Regions from separate parts of the Homo sapiens genome. Here region 2 is linked to region 1. A link means that fine-mapping ties the variant in region 1 to the expression of a gene that starts in the linked region. Tissue or cell type: thyroid. Region 1 holds a variant in brackets; the other region holds the start of a gene. All regions are shown on one strand. Distances are between the middles of the regions.

The links. PIP is the estimated chance that this variant, and not a neighbour inherited with it, causes the effect.
Region 2: POLE starts here. The variant in region 1 is fine-mapped to the expression of POLE in thyroid (GTEx, PIP 0.96).

Annotation. Positions count from the first base shown.
Region 1 is chr12:132,569,052-132,574,051 of GRCh38, forward strand. FBRSL1 (fibrosin like 1) reads left to right here. Exons shown (of 19, transcript NM_001367871.1): 7 at 875-1,190; 8 at 1,284-1,489; 9 at 2,017-2,180; 10 at 3,237-3,293; 11 at 3,476-3,571. Among named protein-coding and RNA genes, the nearest start is that of MIR6763, 10 kb to the right of the region's middle. The variant C/T (reference allele first, on the strand shown) is at 2,195.
Region 2 is chr12:132,684,833-132,689,957 of GRCh38, forward strand. It overlaps POLE (DNA polymerase epsilon, catalytic subunit), which reads right to left and starts at 2,510. Exons shown (of 49, transcript NM_006231.4): 1 at 2,422-2,510. The coding sequence starts at 2,483. It overlaps PXMP2 (peroxisomal membrane protein 2), which reads left to right and starts at 2,755. Exons shown (of 5, transcript NM_018663.3): 1 at 2,755-2,960. The coding sequence starts at 2,839. RefSeq lists a silencer at 1,961-3,270.

The sequences.
Region 1 (5,000 bases):
GTTGTTTTGTTTCTCCTGCGAAACTGGCCCCCTGACCGTGGCAGCTCCTGACCCCAGGCAACAGGAGCTCCACCACATGGACGCTGCCCTCTCCTGACTCCTGGGGACTTGATCTGAGACCTGCCCGAAGGGGCCTGAAAAGGAGGGTTTGGGGTGTGCGGGGGTGGGGGGGGCAGGCCCCAGGGGCTCAGAGGGGCCCACAGGACCTGCGGGGGACGTGCCTAGGTGGGCAGAAGGGTGGCCAGGGAGCAGGGCTGAGGGTGGCGGGTGACGGGCAGTCACAGTAGGGGGAAGCCTCCCACCCAGTCCCTGCCCAAGTTTCCAGGAAGTGGTCAAGCCTTCCACCAGGGGGTTCCAGAAAGAAAAGGTGGTTACAGCTGTGGGCGCTGCTGTTGGGGTGGGGCAGACCCATGCCCTGGGCTGAGGGCACATCCAGGGGCCGTGAACATGAGGCCTAGGTACACAGGCCCTAGCTCCCGTGTTCAAATCCAGCTCCCCTCTTGGGCCAAGTCCTTGATGTATCTTGGTTTTGTCTGTTAAATGAGGTCATAGCAGCCCCTGTCCAGGGACTGACTCTTGCAGGGCCTGTCCTGTCCCTGCCAGTGATGCGTCTTCGGGCAGGTGGGCTACCCACCCCCACCCCTGGCCACGGCCCAGGCTCCCAAGCCAGCTCCCTCCGCCGGGCGGGGCCTGGAGCCTCGGGTGAGATCCAGCTAGCTGTGTGGCCTCCGTGCCTGCCTCCTCATCTGAAATGGGGGCATAGCCGGAGCCCAGACATAGCCTGGGCACCGGGCACGTACCAGGGCTCCCTGGGCCACAGGAGGGGCAGGGACGAGGCCCTGCTGGTCTGAACGCAGCCACCCTCTCTCTGCAGGCCCAGCGCTTGAGAAGTCGGAGGCCAAGGCCGGGCCGGTGCCCAAGGTGTCAGGCCTGGAGCGCAGCCGCGAGCTCAGCGCCGAGAGCTTCCTGCCCACTGCCAGCCCCGCGCCCCATGCCGCGCCCTGCCCGGGGCCCCCGCCCGGCTCCCGCGCCAATCCCTTGGTGAAGAAGGAACCCCCCGCCCCGCACCGCCACACCCCGCAGCCGCCACCCCCGCAGCCCCGCGGCCTGCTCCCGACACACGTGCCTGCATCCCTGGGCGCCTTCGCGGGCCACAGCCAGGCGGCAGCCAACGGCCTGCACGGCCTCAGGTGGGGTCCCCGCGGGGGACGGGGCCTGTGTGGTCTCAGGATGGGGGCTCTGCAGGGGTCGGGCTGGCAGGCACTGAGCCCCGTGTCCCGCAGCAGGAGCAGCAGCGCCCCCCTGGGCCTGGGGAAGCACGTGTCGCTGTCGCCACACGGGCCGGGCCCCCACCTGTCTACCTCACACCTGGCGCTCCGGTCCCAGGCGCAGCACCAGCTCCACGCGGCCATGTTTGCCGCACCCCCGACACTGCCCCCGCCCCCGGCGCTGCCGGCCAGCAGCCTGGTCCTCCCAGGACACCCGGCCGGTAGGTGTCTCGGCCACAATCTCGCCCAGGGCAGGGGTTGGGGGGTGCGGGGACACGGCCACCGGGGAGGGGCGCACAGCCTGGCCCTCCACCTGCTGTGGTCTCTGCGGACCCTGCGCGCCTCTCTGAGTGGTTCCCCCAGGTGTGCCTTTCCCCAGGAGTCTCTGCTGGGCCACAGGCCATCTGTGTGCGGGGACAGGCAGGACACGTGCCCATGCACGTACAGACGCGTGTTCACACTGAGACGGGCGCACGGGCCTCCCCTCCTGGGGCCAGGCCTCCCCCGCAGCCTGCTGGGTCCTGAGCCCTGGGAGGAGGGGGCCGCACATCAAGCAGGCGCCATCCCAGTGGAACCCCGACCGCGAAGGCTTCCTCCCTCGGCCCCCAGGCGCTTCCTGAGGCTCCGAGTCAGCCCGGCCCAGGCTGGGGACGGCCCCGTGTCCCGGGATGGGACCAGGATGCTGGCCTGCGGGTGGCTGGACCCTGGCTCCCGGGGAGGGGCTCACCGTGTTCTCTCTTGCCTCTAGATGCCAGCCTGGCGGTCTCATTCAGCCAGCCAATCATGTATTGCCAGCCTCATTCGGGAATTCTGATTGGTACTTGGTCACAGGCTCCTCTCTTACCTGCACCCCTGGGCCCGCACGTGGCGAGCGGCCACCCCGGCTTGGCCTGCCGACCCCGGGAGTGCCAGGTGACTATCCGCCT[C/T]GCCCCGCCGGGAGCCCGCGGCCAACGTGCCTCTCTGTCTCTCTCTCTTTTTCTCTTGTAGATCACGAGCTGCTCAGGCAAGAGCTGAACACGCGGTTTCTGGTGCAGAGCGCCGAGCGGCCTGGCGCCTCCCTGGGCCCGGGGGCTCTGCTGCGGGCGGAGTTCCATCAGCACCAGCACACACACCAGCACACGCACCAACACACACACCAGCACCAACACACATTCGCCCCCTTCCCCGCAGGGCTGCCCCCGACGCCGCCCGCCGCACCCCCGCCGGTGCGTAGGCCCGCGTGCTGGCAGGGGGCGGGGGCGGGCGTGGGGCGGGGACACGCAGCAGGCACACACAGACACACGCTCGCACACACACCAGCCCAGGAGGAGGTGGGGGGCCGGCGGCACCTCTCTGTCGTCTGTCCGGTCCCCAACGTGCCTTCTGGTGTCCCCACCCCAAGCTGTGCCATGAGGCCCCCACCCTCGGCAGTGGTCCTGGACTTAGGCAGGCACCCCGTGCCCACGTGCATGGGACACCCTCACGCCTGCACTAGATCCCCAGTGCCAGGGCTGGAGGCCCAGACAGGCCTGAGGGCACAGGGACCATGACTCAGGGTGCCTCCCGTGTTCCCCGCCCCGGAGGCCCGGTCTGAGGAGGGAGTTGCTGGGGGCTGGAGTCCCCTCCACTCTCTCGAGTTTTATTCGGAAACTGGCCAGTTTGTCAGTAACCCGGTGTGTCCCCAGCGCGACCCAGCAGCCAGGGCTTCACGCCCCAGGCCTCAGCCAGGCACACAGACTGCCTGGGGGGGCCGAGTTCCCACCCCATGCAAGGGGACCCTTAGAATGGCAGGGCCGCCCTGGTCTGAGACTGAGTTCAGAGCCGTGGGGCTGGCGCTCTAGAGGAGCCTGGGACGGCTGGCCGAAGCCGCCAGCCTCAGGAAGCACAACGCCGTCCTGTCACTGCCCAGCCCGGCCAGGTGGGCGGGGCCCGGGGCCCAGCAACGGTGTCGTGTGTGCGGGGCCTCACCCTCCTCTCCTTCCCTTCCAGTTTGACAAGTATGCGCCCAAGCTGGACAGCCCCTACTTCCGACATTCCAGCGTGAGTGTGAGTGTCCCCGAGGGGCCCGGCGCGTGTCGCTGTGCACGCAGGTCCTGGCCACGGGGCGGTGGGTGGGGCTGCCCCTCGCCTGGCCTCGCCCCTGCTGCATTGGTGCCACCTTCTGGTTACAGGCAGAGGGTGGGGTGAGGACTTGGGCCCCCCCTCCATCCGCTCTCCTTCTCTTACAGTTCTTCCCGTCCTTCCCTCCTGCCATCCCGGGACTGCCCACCCTGCTCCCACACCCCGGCCCCTTCGGGTCCCTGCAGGGCGCTTTTCAGCCTAAGGTACCGCTGCCCCTGGCAGGTGGGGCGGGCACAGCGGGTGGGTGGATTTTGGGGGGAGTGCATGACAACCTCGCCAAACTCTCTGCCCACAACCACCCCCCTTTCCCTCCCTTGTACCTGTCGTCATCTGGGTGCTGGCGTGAGCAGCCCCTGCCAGGATGGGGGGCCCTGCGGTCTGTGTGTGGCCACCGTGGGAGGGACAGGGGGTCCAGCCTGGGAGCAGCCCTGGGAGGTGGTGGGACCGTGTGGAGAGCACACTGTGGAAGCCTCGAAGGAGAACATTCCAGTCCTTGGCAGGAGGCCCTGGTGTGGACAGCAGCCTCACAGGCCGTCCTTACCGCAAGGAGGTTCTTACGGGGCCATCCACACTGCGAGGAGGTTCTTACGGGGCCGTCCACACCGTGGGGGACCCGGGCCTTACGGGGCCGTCCACACCCGCAGGGGACCTGGGTAGCAGGAGGTTGTGTGCCATCTCAGCCAGGGGAGAGGGAACCCCGTGACCCTCCTCACTGTTCCTGGCCTTGTGCTGTAACCCCACCCTCTGCGGAGGGGCACACAGCTCTCAGTCCTGAAGCCGCCTCACCTGTGGGCCTCAGGTTCTGAAGACGGGGCCTGGACCATCCCCGGTAGCTGCCAAGCCCTTGACCTCCCAGGATCCTGCAGCGCCCACTCATTGCCCACAGCTGCCCTGAAGGGCCCAGCACGCACCCCTGGGCTCCCCTGGGGCACCGCCCACATCGTGGACGGGCAGATAGTGCTTCCGAGGACCAGGCACCCCTGGGCACTAGAGGGTCTTGGACCCCCAGACCCCGTGGTTGAGGAATTCAGAGGAATGGAGAAGGGATGTATGTGGCCCACCTGCAGGTGTCGAGCAGGGACCCCCAGACTGGGACTCGGGGGTACTGCCCTGAGCCCAGACAGCCAGGACGCTGAGGCCCTGAGTCTGGGAGGGAAGGAATCTGTCCCGGCCGCACCCCGAGCACAGCTGCTTCTGGGCAGGGTGGTAGCCCAGAGGGAAGGGGCGGTAGAGCCAGTCTGGGGAGGAGGGGGCTGTGGTGTGATGGCCGGTCTTTGCTGTGGGACCCCCCTTTCCCTGGCGCCCCTGGTGGGAAACGACCATCTCCCCTTGGCCCATCCAGGCTCACAGCAGCTCCTCCTGGGCTGGAGACTAGGTGTGCACCACTCCCCCTCTGGGTGGGGCTGTCTCGGCCCTGGTGGCAAGTGGCTCCCCGGGGAGGGTCGCCCACCTTCCCTGGCAAGAGCACCTGCTTCCCACCTTTGCAGAAACTGGCGGGCCAAAAGTGTGGTGGTCCTGCGAGGGAGGGCAGGCTGTCCCTGGGAGACAGCGTGCGGGGCCCCACGGCAAGGCAAAGCAGGGCACAGGCCCACGCCAGAACCAGGAAGCCCGAGGCGTCCTCCTGCCTGGGCG
Region 2 (5,125 bases), 120 kb after region 1:
TATATCACACCGTCCCAGTACTCCACACAGGCTCTCATTCACAGAGAGCTACCATTGACTGGTTACTATATCACACCGTCCCAGTACTCCACACAGGCTCTCATTCACAGAGAGCTACCATTGACTGGTTACTGTATCACACCGTCCCAGTACTCCACACAGGCTCTCATTCACAGAGAGCTACCATTGACTGGTTACTGTATCACACAATCCCAGTACTCCACAGGCTCTCATTCACAGAGCTACCATTGACTGGTTACTATATCACACCGTCCCAGTACTCCACACAGGCTCTCATTCACAGAGAGCTACCATTGACTGGTTACTATATCACACCGTCCCAGTACTCCACACAGGCTTTCATTCACAGAGCTACCATTGACTGGTTACTGTATCACACCGTCCCAGTACTACACACAGGCTCTCATTCACAGAGAGCTACCATTGACTGGTTACTGTATCACACTGTCCCAGTACTCCACACAGGCTCTCATTCACAGAGAGCTACCATTGACTGGTTACTGTATCACACCGTCCCAGTACTCCACATATGCTCTCATTCAGTTTTCATGACAACCCCTACGAGGGAGGCCACTGGTGTCCCCATTTCACACAAGAAGAAACGCAGGCAAACAGCACCCACTGCCTCCTGGGGCACACTCACCTCCCAGGACTGTTTTAAGGATGAGATGAGGTAACCCACATAAAGCATGTAAGGTAAAAGCCATCACTTGTACTTATCCCAGCAGCAGCCTTCCCCCTGCCTGGAGGCCATCACTGAGCTTGGGGCAGGGCAGTGGAGTGGAGCACGTGAGTGCAGTCCTGTGTCCTGAAGCAGGGCAGTCAGTAACCGTCTCTAAGCTCCAAGTTCCAACACACCATGTAGACCCTAAGGGTACCTGCCTCTCTAGGGCTTGCCTGATATGGACAGACAGCGATGAGCACAACAGCAGTTAGGGATCCTTACCACTTGGTTTCTCCTCTGGGAAGAATTTTGTTCAGCTAAGTGTCTGTAAAAAGCTTCACGTTCTCACACGTTTTTTCTATTTTTTTTTTTTTGAGACAGAGTTTCATTCTTTGTTGCCCAGCCTGGAGTGCAATGGCGCGATCTCGGTTCACCGCAACCTCCGCCTGCCGCGTTCAAGTGATTCTCCTGCCTCAGCCTCCTGCGTAGCTGGGATTACAGGCATGCGCCACCACGCCCCGCTAATTTTGTATTTTTTTAGTGGAGACGGGATTTCTCCATGTTGGTCAGGCTGGTCTCGAACTCCTGACCTCAGGTGATCCTCCTGCCTCGGCCTCCCAAAGTGCTGGGATTACAGGTGTGAGCCACCGCGCCGGGCCTCATCCGTTTTCTGCTTATGGCAGGCCAGTCCTCCGGTCATGTTTACCGTTTGCTCTGGCCACCAAGCAGCCGCGTCTTATCCTTGCTCTATTTTTTTTGAGACTGGGTCTGGCTCCGTCGCCCAGGCTGGAGTGCGGTGGCGCGATCCCGGCTCACAGCAGCCTTGACCTGCCGGGCTCAGGTGAACCTCCGGCTCGGATTCGGGAGTATTAATAGCTGGGACCTCGGGCGCGCACCACCAGCCTGTCTAATTTTTCTTGTTTTTACAAGAGAAGGGCCGGGCGCGGAGTCTCACGTCTGTAATCCCAGCACTTTGGAAGGCCGAGGCGGGCGGATCACCTGAGGTCAGGAGTTCGAGACCAGCCTGGCCAACATGGTGAAACCCGGTCTCTACTAAAAATACAAAAACTAGCCGGGCCTGGTGGCGGGCGCCTGTAATTCCAGCTACTCGGGAGGCTGAGGCAGCGGGATCGCTTGAACCCGGGAAGCAGAGGTTGCAGTGAGCCGAGATCGCGCCACTGCACTCCAGCCTGGGCGACAGAGCGGGACTCCCTGCCCAAAAAAATAAAACAGAGGAGACGAGGTCTCTCTCTGTAGCCCAGGCTGATCTAGAACAGGATCCTGGGCTCCAGCGATCCGCCCGCCTCGGCCTCCCCCAGCGCTAGGCCCCCAGGCAGGGTCCCCGGCCCCGCCCCTCCCCGCACCCTCCCCAGCCGCGCGTCCACCCCGCAGGGCCTGGCCCGGGTCCCGCCGCTCTCATCGCCCCCGCCGCGCGGCAGGTCCCAAACGCAGCTGCGCGGAAGGCGAGGCCCGAAAAACCTCAGAAAGAGCCGAGCAGGGAAAGGCCGCGCGGCCCGCCTCGTTTCCCCGCAAAGAAGCCGCGCCCGTAGCGCCTCCGCCCGCCCCGAGCCCCTCCGTCGGCGGTCGGGGCGCGCCGCCCTACCCCAGTCAGGCGCGGCGAGTGCGGGCGGCTGCGGGAACCGGGCCTCCCTCCCGCCTCGGCGGCGCCAGCCGAGGACGGCCCCATGGCACCCTCCGGAGGGCCGGCCCGAGAGCCTCAGGAGGGCGCCCCTCACCTGCTGGCCTCGCCATCCGCGCCTGGGTCCGCGCGCCGCCGCCCGCCGCTCCTCAGAGACATGGAGCCGTTGGCTACCACCTCTGCTTCAGGGGAGAAATTTGGCGCGCTCCCACCCAGACTCGCGAGAGCCGGAAATGCCGCCGTCCATCAAGAGGCGCGCTCCGCCCCTCCCCCGCCCCCCGAGGCGCTCCAATTGGCGCCGGCGCCCGGCGGGGGAGGTGGCCGGCAGGGACCGGGGAAAAGTGTGTGGTAGGCGCGCGCGGCGCACCGTGGGGTTGGGACCGGGCGGCGCTGCGGGCCGCGGTGGGGCCGGAAATGTCAGGCGGTCCCCACTCCGCTCTCGGCGCCTCGGGCTCCGCGCCCGGCCAGCCTGAGGTGGGGTCGGTGCCCCCGGCGGCACGGCGCTGGGGAGGCGATGGCGCCGGCCGCGTCCAGGCTGCGGGCCGAAGCCGGGCTCGGGGCGCTGCCGCGGCGGGCGCTCGCCCAGTACCTGCTCTTCCTGCGGCTCTACCCGGTGCTCACCAAGGCGGCCACCAGGTGAGCGGGGGCGCGGGAATCGGACGCCGCCCCGGCCCCAGGTCGGCCGCAGCGGCGCGGGGCCTGGACGGGAGCGCCGGGCCGGGACCAGGCTGGGGGCGCGCCCGGGTCAGAACCCCCGGAGCGGGCGCCCTCCGACCCGGCGCTGAACTTCCCGCGGCGACACCCGCGTCCGCAGTCAGCGATTGTGAGGCGCCTTGCGGATCCCGCCCTCCCAGCGCGTGGAGGGCCCGCCCAGACCCGGGGGTCGGCGCTGAGGTTCCACCCAAGGACCCAACAGGGGCCCCGCGCGCCCGGGGAAGCCACGGCAAGGGGAGCGGGTCCGCAGGCGCGGGTGAAGACAGGGCGAGGGGAGCGGGTCTGCGGGGCGCGGGTGAAGACAGGGCGAGGGGAGCGGGTCTGCGGGGCGCGGGTGAAGACAGGGCGAGGGGAGCGGGTCTTGGGGGCGCGGGTGAAGACAGGGCGAGGGGAGCGGGTCTGCGGGGCGCGGGTGAAGACAGGGCCAGGGGAGCGGGTCTGCGGGGCACGGGTGAAGACAGGGCCAGGGGAGCGGGTCCTCATGGAGCGTGTGGAGACAGGGCCAAGGGAGCGAGTCTGCGGGGCGCGGGTGAAGACAGCGCCAGGGGAGCGGGTCTTGGGGGCGCGGGTAAAGACAGGGCCAGGGGAGCGGGTCCTCATGGCGCGGGTGGAGACAGGGCCAAGGGAGCGGGTCTGCGGGGCGCGGGTGAAGACAGGGCCAAGGGAGCGGGTCTGCGGGGCGCGGGTGAAGACAGGGCGAGGGGAGCGGGTCTGCGGGGCACGGGTAAAGACAGGGCCAAGGGAGCGGGTCTGCGTGGTGCGGGTGAAGACAGGGCCAGGGGAGCGGGTCTGCGGGGCACGGGTGAAGACAGGGCGAGGGGAGCGGGTCTTGGGGGCGCGGGTGAAGACAGGGCCAGGGGAGCGGGTCTGCGGGGCACGGGTGAAGACAGGGCGAGGGGAGCGGGTCTTGGGGGCGCGGGTGAAGACAGGGCCAGGGGAGCGGGTCTGCGGGGCACGGGTGAAGACAGGGCGAGGGGAGCGGGTCTTGGGGGCGCGGGTGAAGACAGGGCCAGGGGAGCGGGTCTGCGGGGCACGGGTGAAGACAGGGCCAGGGGAGCGGGTCCTCATGGAGCGTGTGGAGACAGGGCCAAGGGAGCGAGTCTGCGGGGCGCGGGTGAAGACAGCGCCAGGGGAGCGGGTCTTGGGGGCGCGGGTAAAGACAGGGCCAGGGGAGCGGGTCCTCATGGCGCGGGTGGAGACAGGGCCAAGGGAGCGGGTCTGCGGGGCGCGGGTGAAGACAGGGCCAAGGGAGCGGGTCTGCGGGGCGCGGGTGAAGACAGGGCGAGGGGAGCGGGTCTGCGGGGCACGGGTAAAGACAGGGCCAAGGGAGCGGGTCTGCGTGGTGCGGGTGAAGACAGGGCCAGGGGAGCGGGTCCACATGGAGCGTGTGGAGACAGGGCCAAGGGAGCGAGTCTGCGGGGCGCGGGTCCGCACGGCGCGGGTGGAGACACGGCCAGGGAAGGTGTTTTGAGAAGGTGACATTGAACAGGCTGTGTAAAGAAGTGGAGCAGAGGCTCTCCTGGCACAGGGAACAGCAGGGCAAAGGTCTCTGTTAGGTTTTGAAGGGAAGGCCGGCGTTAAAGAAAGGCGGAGAGAGGTGCAGCTTGGACTCAGTCCCGAGGGAGGGAAGATCTGTGTGTGGAGAAAGTGAACCCTGAGCAAGAGGCAGGAGATGTGAAGGGAATCGCCAGGGATCTGATCGAGAAGGTGTCTAGGTCCGTGCTAGGAATTTTGGATTTTATAGTCCAGAGAGCTTCTCAGAAGGCAAATACAAACCAAGGCCTGGAGGGAGCCACTGGGCCTGTTCCACCTTTTTATGGAAATTTTTATTGTGATAATTGTAGATTCACAAACAGTTACAAGACTAACATGGAGAGATTCCTTGCACACCTTCCCAGTGTCCCCCATTGGTTACATTCTGTGAAACGTAGTGCAGTATCGACCAGGGCATTGCGTGGACACAGTCCACAGATCCTATTCGGATTTCTCCATTTTTCTTGTAGCTGTATCTGTTCTGTACAGTTTTATCACATCTGTACATTCTTGTGTTCACTACCACAGTCAAAATGCAGAACAGCGTCATGATA